2 separate regions of the Homo sapiens genome follow, and region 1 is linked to region 2. A link means that fine-mapping ties the variant in region 2 to the expression of a gene that starts in the linked region. Tissue or cell type: lung. Region 2 holds a variant in brackets; the other region holds the start of a gene. All regions are shown on one strand. Distances are between the middles of the regions.

Evidence for each region.
Region 1: KCNK17 starts here. The variant in region 2 is fine-mapped to the expression of KCNK17 in lung (TOPMed, PIP 0.98).

Annotation. Positions count from the first base shown.
Region 1 is chr6:39,311,115-39,319,435 of GRCh38, forward strand. It overlaps KCNK17 (potassium two pore domain channel subfamily K member 17), which reads right to left and starts at 3,305. Exons shown (of 5, transcript NM_031460.4): 1 at 2,970-3,305. The coding sequence starts at 3,206. It overlaps KCNK16 (potassium two pore domain channel subfamily K member 16), which reads right to left. Exons shown (of 5, transcript NM_001135106.2): 2 at 7,905-8,019; 3 at 6,672-6,838; 4 at 5,668-5,833; 5 at 5,057-5,328. The coding sequence ends at 5,105. LOC105375047 (a long non-coding RNA gene) reads left to right here and starts at 2,842. Exons shown (of 3, transcript XR_926774.3): 1 at 2,842-3,110.
Region 2 is chr6:39,332,592-39,340,912 of GRCh38, forward strand. KIF6 (kinesin family member 6) reads right to left here. Exons shown (of 23, transcript NM_145027.6): 23 at 1-3,957. The coding sequence ends at 3,941. LOC105375047 (a long non-coding RNA gene) reads left to right here. Exons shown (of 3, transcript XR_926774.3): 2 at 5,922-6,087. Among named protein-coding and RNA genes, the nearest start is that of KCNK16, 14 kb to the left of the region's middle. RefSeq lists enhancers at 3,572-3,651, 6,928-7,429. The variant T/C (reference allele first, on the strand shown) is at 4,291.

The DNA of each region.
Region 1 (8,321 bases), 21 kb before region 2:
CACACAAACAAACCTACACACACAGCCCTCACAATTACTCTTCGATCCCAGCCCACCAGGGCAAGGAGGCTCTACCCCTCTCACCAAGGGCTCACCAGGTACAGCTACTGACAGCTACCATGGGGACAGCTCCTTCCCCACCCTTTACCCAGTGGCTAGGTCAGGTTGGAGTCCTAGTAAACCAGCGACTCATTTTCTCCCCTGCTCACTCCCATTCCTGCAACAAACACTAGGCCAGGCGTGATGTGTGGTGCTTTTAGGGGACGTGACCACAAGAGACATGACCCCAGCCCTCAGTGGTACATAGATAAACCTAATTAACTCTAATATGATGCAGTCAATGTCACTTTGGGCATTAAGGAGGAAGTGCAGCTACACAATCCTGGGCAAGGTGCTCAACTTCTCTCTGTGCCTCAGTTTCCTTACCTGTATAATGGTAATACAAATAGTACCTACTTCATAGAGTTGTTGTGTTAAATAAGGTATTATGTGTAGACTTAGTACCTGGCACATGGTGTTAGCAGTTGCTATATTGCCTATATGCATTATATAGGCATATAATGTTGTAGGACTCTGGGGAAGAAGGATGTTCATTCTCATTTGGGTAGGAGCAGAGGCCTCATGGAGAATGGGATGTTTTAGCTGGGCCTTTGAGGGTCAGGTAGGATTGCTTCTGGTGGAAGGATGTTTAGGTAGATGGGACAGCAGTGCAGAAGGTGGGAGGTGAGACTGCCTGGGACCTAGATTAGGGAGACTGGTAAGAAGTGATTGAGGCCAAGCTGTGCTTGGCTTTGCCATGCCAGGGATGAAGTCGCAGGTATCAGCCAAGGTCACTGAGCAAAGGGGAAGTAGGATCAGGTTTGTGTGCTCTGTGGCAGCTGGCAGTATAGAAAGGGTTGACCAGAGGGGAGAGACTCCTGCAGAAGTGAGTGATAGACGGGCCCTGGCCTGTCTCCTGGCACAGGTGGTCCAGGAGGAACAGAGAGGAGATATTCAGAAGCCCAGGCCTCTGGCCCTATTTAGTATGGGCAGTAAAGGAGATGTTGCAGAGGATTGTGAGGGTGTGTGGACATGGGGCAGACAATCGAGATTTAGGACAGGTGGAGAAGCAGGGCTGGGAGGAGGAGGACCACTTGCTCTTGGCCTTGAGGAATTTCAGAAGTTGCATGTCCACATCTGGTGCTCAGAAAGATCTGGGCTGGATACCACATCCTTATTCCTGGAGTTGGCTGAAGCCACAGGAGTGTTGAGGAAGGGGGTGAGGTGGGGGTGGAGGGAGTTGAAGGGAAAGCCCAAAGAGATGACAGCCTGGCTGGGAATCTTGGGAAGCACCCACATCCACAGGTCCACACTGAGGCAGTATTTATGCTGGTTAACAGCTCCAGCTCCTGGCTATGTAGCCATGCATTCGTATGTAACCTCTCTGAGCCTGTTTCTTCACCTCTGAAACAGGATGATAAAAACAGTACCCACCTGTGAGGGTGAAACAGGATGATAAAAACAGTACCCACCTGTGAGGGAGGTGAGACAAATGAATACGGGTAAAGTACCAGCAACAGTGCTTGGCACACGATAAGTGCTGCACAGAGGCATTTACTGTTATTATAATCACCATCATAGCCATCTCCCTGGGCCCAGGCTGCTTGTAGTCGAAGTTCACCACCTTTGCAAGGGTAATGGCAGGCAGCCTCAGCACCAGGACCCAGCAGTCGGGCTGTATTTGCAGAAGTCCGCAGGTGGGGAGCTGGAGGAATCACTTTAGGTCCTTAGTAGAGATAGGCCTGGCCCTGGCTACCTCCTGACCTCACCGAATCGGCCTAGTCCGAGGGTTCAGAACACCACTTCCGCTCCGCGCTGGGTCCCTTCCCACCCTGGCACGGTTCCCTGCCACCTTCCGGGGATTGGCTTTGGACTGGAGACTCTGGACGGATAAGCCACCAGGACTGCAAGACGGGGATTCTGGGCTGGCGCGCAGCTGTCTGGACTCTGGGCTCTTGGACGAAGGGGTGGGGAACCAAGCCAGGACCCAGGACATCAATGCCTCCGCCAAATCGAGCAGCTGCCAGTCTGGCGTCGCTTCAGTCCTAAGATGCGCCACCCCTAGAACCCTCCCCGGCCTCCTCCGCCCTGCTAGGCCCCACCCTTGAGGAGCCTCTGCTCAGATTTACCTCTGAGTCCTCCCCTGAACCCTGCCTTCAGCCTTTCTGGGCAGCCGCGCGGCGGCGGCGCGCCCAGTCCTTGTGTCCGAAGACTCGGAGTAAAGCGGGTTCAGCCAGAGAGCGGCCCTGCGTCCGCCCTCCTCTCGAACCCGGGTCTGCGCACGTCGAGCCCCCTCTCTGCGTTGAGGGTGGCCCCGACCAGCACGCCTCGGGCCCAATCCACCCACCCTCCGGGACAAACGCGCCTTCCCCCAGGCTCCTACGGCCGCGCCCTCGCTCCTGCGCATCCTTAGACCCGGCGCCCCTGCCGTCCCAGCTCCCAGTTCGCAAACGTGCGCCCGGGTTCCCCCTCTGGAAGCGGCCAGGTGTGGCGTTTAGCTCTTTGCCACGGGTGCGGGTGCGACCAACCCCCAAGCAGGCTCAAACGCGCCCTTTCCCGGGTCAGGCCGGGCGGGGCCGGTTACGCGCGCGCCCCCTGCCGTAGTCGTCCTCGCCCCCAAATTTGGATGTGTCCCCAGGCATCTGCCTCCTCACCGGGCCAGCATGCCCTCTCGCCCCCAAGTAGGACTCAGCCCGGCTTCTCGCAGTCCTCTCGCTAGGGCGAGGGTCTTTTCCTCCGAGGTCCCCCAACCCTCTGGTCCCCGCGCAGGAACGCCCACCCCCGTTGTGCCCGCGTCTGCGTTCCCGACGTTTCCCTGAACAGGAAACACCTGACCAGGGCCTGAATAGGCCCCCTCGCCCTCGGCCCGTACACCCCGCGGCCCGCTACCCCATCCCGCCGCGCCCAGGCCGACGCCGCTCGCCCCTGACCCGGATCAGCGAGTCCAGCGCCGGGCGGTCCAGACACGTGAAGTTCTGCAACAGCTCCCACTTGTCGCGCTGGAAGCTGCGGCTGGAGTCCTGCGCCGCGCGGCCCTCCAGCGTCCAGAACACGCCGGTGCCCAGCGCCAGGTAAGCCAGGTAGGCGAGCAGCAGGAGCACGGTGCTGGGCACCGCGCAGCCCCGGACCCTGCCCTCGGGAGCCGCCCGGGCTCGCGGTCGGTACATAGCGGGAGAGGCGGGGAGCCGGCGCCGGGAGCGGTGGACTAGGACCCGGTGGGAGGGAAGGGCCAGGCGTCCAGCTCGTATCTCCTCTCGCAAACGCCTGCTGGTGCCCGGTTTCGCCGGGGAGGAGGAGTGTTGGGGAATGGGACAGCCTGGCCCCACCCAGCCCTGGGATCCAATCCCCGGGACAAAAAGAGGCTCTGAACTGTGGGCATCTGGCCCCGCCTCAAATGTGTGCGGGGTGCCCACCTGCTAGGCCTAGGCCAGGGAGAAGGAGGAAGCTGCTGGGTGACCGCAGGCGCTGAGGGAAGGGGCCCAGAGCCCCCTCACATTTCCTGAAATGAACAATGGGAGGGACTTCTGGAAACCGCACTCAGAGGTAGGAGATAGTAGAGACCAACTTTATTGTCTTGGGGCCCCTGCCTAAGTTCTTGGACTCGGGGGCTATCTCCAAGGACTTGCTGTCTGTCAATCTCAAGACCACCTTGGGTCTCCCACACCTCTGTCCTTTCCTTTGTACCCCAAAAGAGGGACCCCAGCTGATTGCCACTTGTCCATGAGCTTGGGAGGTAAGAGGAGCCTTAACCAAGAGGCTTGTCCACTCCTTGCTTCTGAGAAGGCCCCCGAAATCCCTCTACCTGGAGTGGAGGAAGCGTCTAGGCTGTGTGAAGAGTCCGTGGGTCCTCAGCTTCCCAGTCCTTTCTTGGATATGGGGAAGTCCTGGGGTGTGACTTGGACTCCTCTTGCTGCTGTAGAGCCTCTCCTGGGTCTCCTGCCTGGAGCCGCCTTGGCTCCACAGCCTTGCCTCAGACCTGTGCAGAGGAACCCAGCCACATAGGAGCCCACTTGCTGTTGGATGATGGGAGAGGCAAAGGCCAAAATTTCCAGGCCCCGGGATGGAGTGGTCTAAATCTCTCCTGGTCAGGGATGTTGCAGTCTGGCAGGGGAAAGGCCAGACCTGGAGAATGCATTCCTGAGAGAGGCCAGACGTTCATGGAGCTCACTTTCTGGAAGGATCCTGGGATCTGCTGGCTCTCTGGCTTCCCATGGGGTGTTTGGAAAGGCTCTTGAGAAGGCAGGAGCCCAGAGGGAGTGATGAAGTTAAGGGGGTGGCCTGTGAGGGTCAGGGGAGGCCATGTTCAGGAAAGTGGGTAGGACACCCAAGAGGTCCTAAGCTTTGTTCACAGACAGCCCTGGACTTCTAGGCAAGGGGAGCTGGCGAGCTTTGAGAGGCAGCTCGCCTGCCCCTCGGCTGAGAGCTTCCTGAGGGCAGAGATCCTCTTTTCACTAAGATTGTTCCAAAGTCTCTGCCCAGGTCTCCCCTCTCTTTGATGCTCCCTGCCAGCCATTCCCATGGGCTCTCATCAACCCTGGGGCTATTCCCATCATAGCATTTTGGGCACTGTGTTGGGGCTGCCTCTTTGCTTGCCTAGCAACTAAAGGCACATCAAGGGCAGGCACTTCCACTGCTGTATCCCCAGACCCTGGCACAGACCCTGGCACAGCACCTGGCACATAGTAGGGGCTTGGCAAATGCACTGTGCACATATCAAATGAGGCAAAAGTAAAGTCATCCTTTGTTTGTGTAAGGTCTCCTGGAAGGGGGCATGGGGAGGGCAGTGGAGATCTGGCCACTACCTTTGGGTGGAAGGCTGTGGCAGGGGCTCTGGGACAAGGGTACACCTCCCCATCCACACATGTCTTTAATCCTATCTCACGTCTCCTCTCTGTTACTTTCTTGGATATACCTGTCTCCTTTCTCTCTTGGGAGAGCTCCTGAGACCAGCCCTGGCTGAGAAGTGAGGGGGTTGGGAGAGGAGAAAGCAGGGCTGGAAATCCAGAGAGCAGATAGGGTGGGACTGGGGAGGATGAAAGGGGTTTCTGGGCCCCCCCCGGGGGCCTCATGCAGAGATGGGGATCTTCTGAGGCCTGGGGAGCCCACTGGGGTCAGAGGCTGCCCCATCCTTGACGCCGAGGCCCCTACTGAGCAGCCAGAGCTGGCAGCATCTGTGCAGAAGCAGGGGGCCCAGTGGGAGGATCAGCGCCAGCCACGCCAGGCCCAGGAGGATCCAGATGGCTGCCAGGCTCCGATACACTGAGATATAATGCTTGCTGGGGTCTGTGCCTGCCAGGGAAGGGAATGGCATCAATGCCAGGGGTCTCAGGGCATAGCCACCTCCAGTTTCCATAGGGACCCTCACCAGCCAGGATGCTCTCTCCCTCTTCCTCATAACAAGGAACAGCAGTTGAGGTAGGTCTCTGCAGGGTGGTGATGGGTCCTAGACCAGAAACTTCTGAGAATGTTGCTTAGAATCCACAGTAGTCCCAGAAATCATTGGTTTGGCTCCCTTGAATGACCAAGGGCTATCTTATCCTCAATAGTTGTCCTCAGCTGACATCTCTCCATCCCCCAAATCCCAGTGGGCACCCCCACCCTGAGATAATGTGACTGTTTTGTTCTCACCAACAACATAGTCCCCAAAGCCAATGGTGCTGAGAGTGATGAAAGCAAAGTAGAAGCCCTCGCTGAAGCTCCAGCCCTCCACATGGCTGAAGACCATGGGTGGGAAGATGAGAATGACCAGCGTCCCCAGGGTCAGGAACAGAGCCAGGCCCAGGACTTGCAGTACCTAGGAGGGAGGGAGTTGGCCTCTGAGTCCACTTGAAAGTCTCCAGGATTGTATGAGGTTGGGGGGAGTCTGGGGTAAACATGGGAATGGGACTGGGCCATAGCTAGGACCCTTTCCTGCACTGCAGACCCTCGAGGTGGAGGTTGTATCTATGTGTGCATGACCTTGTCCCACCCAGGGAAAGATTTCGGCAGAGGGATTGCGTTAGTGGGTCAAGAAGCGATTTGGAGACCCCTTTGGACTTGGGGATCACACTTGAACAGGCTCCCTGGGGACTCAGATCTGGAACAGAAAAGTATCATTGAACTGTCTGCGTATTTCTGGCCTTGCAAGTGGCTGGCCAAGGGTGGGCACTGAGGGCATGCTGGGCAGCCTGCAGAGCTTGTTTGCTACTGCACAAAAGGATGTTGGAGTTCTGTGATGACCTTGAAGATGTGCTACAGAGATCCCTCACTTAAAGGAGGACGGTGGGCCAGCTGCCAGCTCCTTCAGGGTGTTCAGCTGCAGAGAACCTCCTGGCCTAGGGGCATACCCTTCCTGGGAAGGCCACACCCAGTGCCTGATTGAGGCAGGTATGAAAACCTGGCTGGTTCCGCCCACTGTGGGACAACTCTGACAGCTCTCACATGCTGTAGAGCTCCTTGGGGCCAAGCCTTTGTAGAGCATGCATAGAGATCCAACTCCCCACTCTGCCCAACCCTGCCTTCACCCTTCCTCTTTCACAGGCATCTACCCCTAACACCATGCATGCCAAACTCCATCTCAGCATCGGCTTCTGGGGAACTCCACTTGCAACAGATCTGTCACAGCAGGCCTGTAAGGGAGTTAGGGGGCATACCTGGGAGCGCCTGGGACGGTCCTCCCATCTTTCAATGGCGGCCAGATGGGCACGCAGCCCTGTGCCCAGGTGGTTGAGGAAGATCACGTTAAGCGGGATGCCCAACAGGGCATAGAAGACACAGAAGACCTGACCTGCCTCTGTGCTGGGTGCCAGGTTCCCATATCCTGCAAGGGAAGGGGGGCGTGTGCAAATATGGAGACTCTAGAACGCCCTCTGCTCCTCTTCCCCAGACTCTAGCTGAGGTTTGTCTGTCACCACCTCTGGGGGTGAGAAGGGGAAGCTCCCCTGTTCCCATGAACTCTGCTGGAATGATTTTTATTTATAGGACTCCTGCTCATCTTTGAAGGCCCATCTCAAATGACTCTGCCTCCATGAAGCCCTCCTGACTGCCGATTTCCTTCTCCCTTCTGGGTGTGGTTCCCCATAGTGTTTTATGTCATTGCTATGTAATTATCGACTTTGTTTTCTATTACTTTTTTTTGTGTATTTATCATGTTCCTCTTTGTTGGACTGGAAGTTCCTTGCAGGCTGAGCCTGGGTCTGATCCAAGTTTGTATCTCTCACCCCCAACTCCATCACTCTGCCTGGAATGTCACCTGAGTTCAAGGAAAGTATGTGGAATTGGACTTAACTGAATGGATGGGGTAGACCTGGATCTGATGGTTTCCTTGGGGTGGGATGGAGTGAGTTTTCTGGCCGAGGGGGTGTAGCAGCTGCTGTCAGTGCCCTGTTCCCTCAGAACACATGAGATACCACCTGAAGCTTTGGTGGACAGTTCCTGTATACAAATCAACCCCCGCTCCCAGTTTCTGCACATCTCTCTCTACCTGAGAGATTCTTCTGGCCAAAGGAGTATGCTTGGTCTATGGGAAGTTTCAAAATGCTGGGGAACTAATATACTCGGGACCAGCTCTCAACCTTTGAGGGCAGGAGTTGGTAGCTAAATGGCCCCTCATTCTTGTCCCTCGCTGGACCGTTCTGAGGAAGGGCTCTATCTAGCCTCTCAGAGGGTCCCAAGGAGAAGTGAGCTCAGTCACCCAAGCCAGTAATCTGCTAATTAATGCAAATTTCATTGCCACCTTCTCCCTACTGTTTCACTTACCCACTCCCTCCCTGGGCTTCCTGAATAATCTCCTAGACAAACCACATCCTTGTCTCAGCATCTGCTTTTGGGGAGCCCAAACTAAGACAGGGGCCTTGGGGAAGCTCTTCTCTACCCCAGCCCTTTACCTATGGTAGTGACGACTGTGCCTGCAAAGAAGAAACTGCTGCCAAAGTCCCAGTTGCTGGGGTTGGTAGAGTTGCCTTTGGGGTTCACACCTTTCACCCAGGCTTCCATGATGACCTGTAGGGGGTGGCATGGCAGGGGAGGAAGAAGGAGCTGATGGTTACTGGGCACCAGTTGTTGCCATGCTTTTGGCAGCATGCTTTTGTGTCATCTCATCTAATGATACTCTTAGATGATATTGTTCCCATTTCATGGAAAAAGGAAATGAAGACTCAGAGTGGCTAAGTGACCTGTGCAAGGTGACTGGACTCCAACTCCAGTGTCTGTTCCACTGTCTGTTCCACTGGCCAGGGCTGACTGAGGTGTGGGCTGCAAGCATGGGCTGGGGCGGGAGATGGGCCTGAGGGGTGAGGTGGAGG
Region 2 (8,321 bases):
TCCACTCTGGCTGTTGGAAACATGAACTCTTCCCAACACAGTGTTATCTCAGGAAATTATTCCACCTGCTTCCTCCTGGTGGTTCTTTCCCCTGCCTTGGGTAATTTCTTCACATGCAGATGTTGATCGGTAGTTAGCTGAAGACTCAAGGGTAACCCTCTGAAGATCTCCAGAGCATGCTCTCTCTCTTTCTCTCTCTTTTTTCTCCTCTCTCTCTCCTTCTCTCTCTCTCATCCCTGGGACTCTGCCTTGCAAATTTAAGCCACTTTGTCCTCCCTGGATTCCCAGCTCCATTTCCTCAACTCAGGGAAACCACTGGGCTCTACCTGGTTCCCCCTTCCTGGGCTGCAGCCTGAAAACTCACTGCAGGCAGTAAGTTGGAGCAATCATAGGGCTCCCCTCACTTGTTTCCCTTCTCTTGCGGATCAATCATACCCTATATTGCTTGTTATCCAATGGCTGAAAACCATTGGTTTGTATAGAGGATTTTGTCTCATTTTTAGTCATTTAAAGCAGGAGGGTAAATCAGGTCCTTGTTGCTTCATCATGGCTGTAGGTGGTGGTCCTGCTTTTCCATATACAGGATGCTCTCAGTGCCTTTCCACAGGCTGCATGGAGAGACAATGAACTCTGCACTGAGAAATCCTAGATCCAGTCATATACTGTCTCTGGGTTCCAATTTCTGTGCCAGTCTGCTATTGCTACAATTAATGCTATATAACAAACCACTCTAAACCTCAGTGGTTTATGACAAGCAGCATATATTCTCATGCCAATAGGTCTTTGGGTGAGCCATAGTTCAGCTGATCTGGGCTGGGCTTGCCTGGGAGGCTCTGCTCCAGGCTGTAGACTGGGCTCAGGTCTGCTCTCTGGATGTTCCAGGCTGAAGGGGCAGCAGCTACCCATGGCATGTTCATCCCAAGAGAGATCACTGGAGCAAGAGGCAAGCTCAACCATGAGAGCACAATTCAAGCCTCTGCCTGGATCAGGTTTGCCAACACCACATTAGTCAAAGTGGGCCATGACAAAGCTTTGGATGTGTAATTCTATACTGGTGGTGAAGAATTAAAATGATGTATTCAGTATACCACAATTTCTCTATCTGCTTTCTAAAACTCCTTTTTAGCAAGATCTGGGCAAGCTACATTTTAACTTCCCTCCTCCAACCTCCGTCCACCCTACTTCTTGTCAAGGGATTGGTAGAGCCAGTTGAATTCTAGCAGGGACTGGGCTGGAGTCACTGGCTAGGCTGCTTTCCAGAAAATGTTTTTGAAAATCCCACATTTTGGCCTAGAGTGAACTCAGATACTTCTTGTCATCCGTGGCTCCACTGATCCCAGGTGGATTGCTGGAAAGTCTTTTCAAAACATTGCATCAATTTCTCCCATTTGCAGAGGCCAGTGAACTCTGGGAAGGTGCACTGCTGTCAAGCATGTGTCCATATCAAAGGCTGGGCTTCCATTAGGGGATGTTCGGAGCAAAAGGCCCCTTGGCCAGTTGCTGCACACACTTTGCATATGCTCTGGACACCAGTGGCCCCAGATCCCATGTTGTGTGTTTTTCTGTCTTCATTTCCTTTCCTGTCTTAGTGATTGCCCCAGGAGGCTGGTTCACACCCCGCATGGGGCCATGCCACACATCTCTGTCAGTAAGGCCTTTGGATCCAGGAGATGATGTCTCAGTGGGAGATCTAATGTTGAAAGACTCTGGCAGGGTATGTGGCTCATGCCTGCAATCCCAGCACTTTGGGAGGCCAAGGCGGGAGCATCGCTTAAGGCCAGGAATTTGAGACCATCCTGAGCCACACAGTGAGACCCTGTCTCTACAAAAAATTTAAAACGAGCTAGGTGTGGTGGTGCATGCCTGTAGTTCCAGCTACTTTGGAGGCTGAGGTGAGAGGATCGCTTGAGCCCAGGAGTTGGAGGCTGAGTATGGCTTGAGCCCAGGAGTTGGAGGCTGACTAGTGAGGTATGGTCGCACCACTGCACCCCAGCCTGGCTGACAGAGACCCCCCCCATCTCAAAAAATAAATAAAAGAAAGTAAAAATAAAAGAAAATAAAAGTTAGTAGACTCTACCCAGCTCTAGAGGGCTGAGGGCACTAAGGCATGCCAAGAATACTGCTGCTGCTACATAGGGGACTGGGGCAAATGCCATGCCATCTTCAGGGCTCTTGAGAGTGTGTGTGTGTATGTGTGTGTGTGTGTGCAGTTACATGTGTGTTCCATGGACTCTTGGGGAGGCTTCTAGAATCAGAATTTGGTCTTCCTCTGGTTCTACAGACTTTACAGAGGGCTTACTATGTTCCATTGAACTGTGAGGGCCAGGAGTGGACCAGAGATGCTGGCCCCTGTCCCGATGGGATTCAGTCAGAGCCTGGGGGAAGTCAGAGTGACACCAGCCTGAGAAACACATCTGGGTTCTGGCTCGTCTACTCATGAACTGAAGGACCGTTTACTGAACAGCGACTCTGTGCTTGGGACACAGCAATGAGCAAGACAAACAGGTCCCTGTTGCATTGGAGCTCTTAGTATTATGGGGGGTTGCAGGTATTTCAAAAATAGGCAAGTTCGGAAGGATAACATGTCAGATAGTGATGCAGAAAAAATGGTAATGGGATAGGGGATAACTAGGGGGTGACTCGAGATGGAGTGGTCAGGGGAAGCCCCCTGAAGAGGGGACATTTGTCAGTGGCATAGAACAGCAAGCTGAATCTCCCCTTCACTCTGGCCTTCTAATTATATAAAATAGGGGTGTGGATTAGAGGAGCTCGATGGGCCTGCCTAGCTTAGAAATGTAATGGTTTAATCTTCTCCTGCATGATCCTGTTACCCAGTCCTAAAAAACGAAAAAGAAAATCAAGCCAATTATACTATATTACCACTCTGCTCCCCTCCAGGGTCATCAGGTCCTGTATTTATAGGACAGAGACACCAGGAGCAGTGGACCAGCACTTTTATCCAGTTAGCTTCATTTCCAGGTGCCACTCCTGCTCACCCTCCGCTGCCCCTCCCTGGCTGCAGCTGGGTTGGAACCCCCTGGCCCAGGGGGCAGTTCTTCAAGAACCTCCTTGAGGGCTGCCCACCTTCCCTTGGATCTGTCATGGAGAGGGCCCATGGAGACAAGACCCCCAGGCAGCTATGTTTTTCCCTGTGGAAGTGGGGAGTGTCAGCCCAAATCCTCCCAAGTGGCTGGGTGAAGGTTGTGAGGCCCAAGGTACCCACACTGCCCTCTCTCAAGCTCTCAGCAGAGCCCCTGGGAGCTGCCCACTGTTCTCTGGGTGCTATGATGTCCTTAGACCCTGCAGGGCAGATGGCTCCCTGGAGACACAGCTGTTCAGGCACTGCCTCCAGGTCATCCTGGCCAAGAGGCTGATGGTGAAAGATGTGGTCTGGGAGATCAGGATTGGCCTTCAGGATGCCCTGCATTCCACTGCCTTGCCTGTGGCTGGGACATCCTGCCTGGACCTGTCATGGCCATTTCTGGGCTTCCAAACCAGAGCACGGGCCAAGGGAGAGAGCTGGCAAATCGTTAAAAATAAAAATATTCCCCCCACATTCCACTGGTGTGAGCATCCTCTGACATTATATTTTGATGGTGCTATTTCACATTCTCAAAAGCTTATAAAGATCTACACAAAACGTCACTACAACAGTGAGCTGAAGCCTTCACCCTGCCCCTAGCACTCTGGCCTTGCCTGGCCCTGCCAGCAGCTCCAGCAACCACAGGAAGGATGTTGTGGTCAGCCCCAGCCCCAGCCTCTCGGTGGCCTCCAGGTCAGCATCCTTAAAGAAACACAGTCCCCTCCATGGGAATCAAAGTCACTAGTTGCTCCCAGCAGCCCATAGTTCACTTCTGAAGCCAGAGCAAGTGAGGGGCGCTGCCTTCATCTGTGCTTCATTCTTGCTGGCATAATTCATGGATGGATATTTCCTGGAAATTCAATTGCTTCCCAAACCTGAAAGGGAGACAGGATGCTTTTGGTTAGGCTGTGCATGCAGACACTGACTTTTCCCAGGATTGAATCGGGGGGAGGGGAGGCCACCAGCCACTCCCCCTGGGTCTTGGGCACTGCATCTGTGTCTTGCCTCCCAGGAGCTGCATTTATACCCCAAGCTCTGAAGGAAGAGGCCCCCTTTGCCCTTTGCAGAAGCTCCATCTCCCTAGGCTGAGACTGACGCCTGTTTTCCTACCCCACCGTTTTCTTTCCTTTTCTTTCTTTCTTTTTTTTGATGGAGTCTCGCTCTGTCACCGAGGCTGGAGTCTTGTCTTTTCCTTCCTTCCTTTCTTC[T/C]GTCCTTCCTTCCCTTCCTTCCCTTTCTTCCCTTTCTTCCCTTTCTCTTCTTTCTTTCTTTTTCTTTCTCTTTCTTCTCTTTCATTCTTTCTCTCTTTCTCTCCCCTTCTTTCCTTCCTTTCTTCCCTCCCTCCCTCCCTTCCTTCCTTTCTTTTCCTTCCTTCCTTTTTCTTTCTTTCTTTCTTTCTCTTTCCTTTCTTTCCTTCTTTCCTTTCTTTCTTCTTTCTTCTCTTTCTTTCTTTCTTTCCTCCTTCCTTCCTTCCTTTCTCTTTCTTTTCTTTCTTTCCTTCCTTCTTTCTTTCTTTCTTTCTTTCTTTCTTTCTTTCTTTCTTTCTTTCTTTCTTTCTTTCTTTCTTTTTCTTTCTTTTCTTTCCCTCCCTCCCTCCAGCCTCCCCTCCCTTCCCCTCTTCCTTCCTTCCTTCCTTCTTTCTTTTTCTTTCTTTTCTTTCTGGACGGAGTCTTGCTCTGTTACCCAGGCTGGAGTGCAGTGGCACAATCTCGGCTCACTGCAACCTCTGCCTCCGGGGTTCAAGTGATTCTCCTGCCTCAGCCTCCCAAGTATCTGGAATTACAGGCACCCACCACCACGTCTGGCTAATTTTTGTATTTTTACTAGAGATGGGGTTTCACCATGTTGTCCAGGCTGGTCTCAAATTCCTGAGCTTAAGTGATCCTTCACCTCAGCCTCCCAAAGTGCTGGGATTACAGGTGTGAGCTACCACACCTGGACAACCCCATGGTTTTCATTGATGCTCCTACCTAATCCTCAGATTCTCTCCTTGCTTTTTCCTCCAGATATTAATTATATTCCAGGATGGCTCCTCCTGACCATGTGGCCCCTATCCTGTCATCTCCCATGGCTGGGCATGGAGAGGGTTCTCTGGATTGAGAACCAGGGCCCTTGCGTTCTAGCCAGGACAGTCCCCAACCCACGGTGTGACTTTGGGCAAGTCATGTCAGTTCTCTGGGCCTAACATTTCTCTTTGCTGGAGCAGATGAGATACCTGGAAAAAGCAAGGTGGCTTCTTGCTTCACAAAATGTGGTCCATGGACCAGCAGTGCTGGCATTTCCAGGGAGCTTGTTAAGAAAGGCAGAGTCTAAGACATGGTCCACCCTGGACTTACTGGATCAGAATCTACAGTTTGACAAAACCTGTCGATTCATTAGCACATTAAAATGTGAGAACTGGTAAGAGTGATATGCAGTTATTTTGCTTAAAGTTTGGCTAATTTAGTAAGAGCAAGAGAGAATTTCTGAGATTCTTGGATGAAGTAATAAATACAATGTTTAAAAAAATTTCAGTGGACAGAGAGCCTGAGGGGTGAGGCTGCTCAGGGAACAGGTGAGCAGGCAGCTGCAGCCCTCCAGGTTCGGCCACAGGAACCTGGTACTGGGTGACGAGTGTTAGCTTGGTTGGCTTGATATTGCTGTGGAAGAAAGGGTAATTCTTGGTGATACATTGAATGGCCAGCTAGTGCGGAGGAAGAGATTGGAAATAATTCACGGCTGTGAGCCCTTGGTCTTTCAGTTCTAATTCTGTGTGCAAGACCTCTGGCAGGCCTTGCTGTTTAATTAAACAAATATGGTCCTTATTTTTAAGACATTCTGATCTGTCTGAATTGAATTCTAGAACGGGAAGTAAGAAGACAAGTACACCGAGCCTATGATGGTCATGTGTTCCTGTCACTCTGGACTTGTGGTTCCCAGCTCTGCTACACAACGGAAATCTCTGGAGAATCTCTAGACATCCTGGTGCCCAGACCACAGCCCAGAACCATTCAGTCAGGATCACTGGGGTGGGTCCAGGTGATTCTGAGGCATGGCCATGGCTGAAACTCACTGCTTTTGTCTCTCTAGTACAAGGACTGGCAGGGCAAGAGCTGGGGGCCCGTGGGCACGTGGCTGCTGATGAGATCTGGGCTCTGATGTTTCTGCTGCACTGTTGAAATGCAGCCTGGGCCAGGATTGTGAACGCTGCCGGTGGTAGGGAGCATGGAGTCTGAGCCATCTCCCACCCAGGATGGTCTCTGAGCCCCTCACACACTTGCATGCAGTAATGACAGGGGGTGGGTGGGGTGGGGCCTGGGAAGAAATGCTACAGAATAGGGGGGAGAGCACGCTCTGCCCCAAGACATAGCTCCTTACATGCACAGACCTCAACACAAAAGGCACCATTTCAAACTCATTCACTTTATGGGCCCCAGTTAAGTGATGAAGCTCTGTCTGTATTGGGGTTTTGATTACCGTGGGCTCCCAGAAAGGAGGGCACACTACAGATGTACCATTAAGAAAAAGCAAAATCACACCTCATGGTGTTGGGCCAGCTCTCACCACAGAGGCCACTTCCCTGTTAATAATTCCTTGGTGCTTGGGAGTTGATAAGGGACTTTAATGGAGATTATCTGGGAAAGGATCAGAGCCTGGGCAAGGGTGGAATCTGTACATGACAGACAGTGAGAGGGAGGCTTGGGGAGGTGACCTGCCCAGTGTCACGCAGAGCAGAGATGGCCTTGGAATTTCCGCCTTTTCCCTCCCAGCTCGGGGCTCTTTCTCTTTCCCTGGGAGGGTTTCTGAACACAGAAGAGAGCTGGAGGGTTTCTCTGAGTGGGGCTGGAGGGCTGGGAGAGGCAGGACCTCTTCCTAACACCTCTTGGAGAAGACAGACTTGTGGTTATGGGGGTCGCACCATGGTTCCTTTCCAGATGGGAATACTTCCAAACTCAGGGATTAAGCAAGATTAAAAACAAAAAGGCCCTCTAGAAAGGGGTTAACCTCATTTCCTCAGACATAAAAACTGTCCTTGGCAGTTGGAAACAGCAGAGTTGACTCCACGGATGACTGATGCCCCTTACGGGTGTTATATACCTGTCCACGCCTGCCCCTGGCAGGGATTTAAACATTCCATGCTGTTCCATGAATCCTAAATCAAATAGATTCATCCTGGCCCTTGGTGAAGCCTAAGAGCTGGCGAGGCTTATGTTAAATTGCCCTCTCTGGGCTCCTGCTCCTGAGCTGACAGTCACAAATTCCCCTTAATGAGCACTCCTGAAGTAACCAAGGCAGCGCTGTGAGCTAAATTAAGATTCGAGAGCCCAGGCAGGGAGAGGGAGGTGTTTGCTTTGGCTGAGAAGGTGCCTGGGCCCCGGCCTGTGTGTTTGCCTGGGTGCCCTGATAAGTGGGCTGCATATTAAGTGCCACATGGTGGGACCAGAACCATCTGCTGTATGTCTGAGAGGTCACGCCTGCTGGCCCTTTGGGACCTGGTGGCAGAGGGACCCCGTGTCAACCTGTCTTTGGCTTCCTTTGTGGCCCCGTGGTCACTGAAAAGCCAGAATGAATATTCTTCCTTTCGGAATAAAAATTGAGCTGTGGAAGTTTTGTTTGCTTTGATGAATTACTTCCAGGCTGCTGTTTATTTGGAGAGCAAAGCTCCCCAGCTGCAGGGTGGGTAGAGGCTGCGGTCACTCCCCTCGTCAATGCTGGTTCCTGTTCCTGAGGCCGAGAGAACTCCTGACAGCAGAGTGGGCATATCTTGGTAGTTGCAGCTTTTCAAGACAGTGTGGCCCAGTGGGGAGAGAGCAGAAAACCTGGGTTATGCTGGCTCTGCCATTTATCAGCTGTGTAACCTTGGGCAAGTGATACAACCTCTGTGTGCCTCAGTTTCCTTTCCTCACCTGTCCACAGGGGATCATAATCTTGGCCCTGCATGCCTTACAGGAGCGTTAAGAGCATCAAATGAAACAATAAAAATGAAAACATTTATAAATGGTAGTTTGCCATACATATTTTAATAAAAGTGCCTGCCCTTCAATCCAGCTCTCTGCACTGCCTGGGGACAGTGTTAGCAGGAGGACACCACTCTGACAGGGACCTGGACTTCCGCCTCTTCTGTTTGGAGAGAGTTAGATGATCACATCTCTTATATGTACAAAAGCTTAGTGAATGTAACTTAAAGATATTGCTTGCTTGTAGGCTTCTTGAGGGGAGGAATGATGGTTGGTTTCTATGGATTTGTTACAGGGGAAGGGAT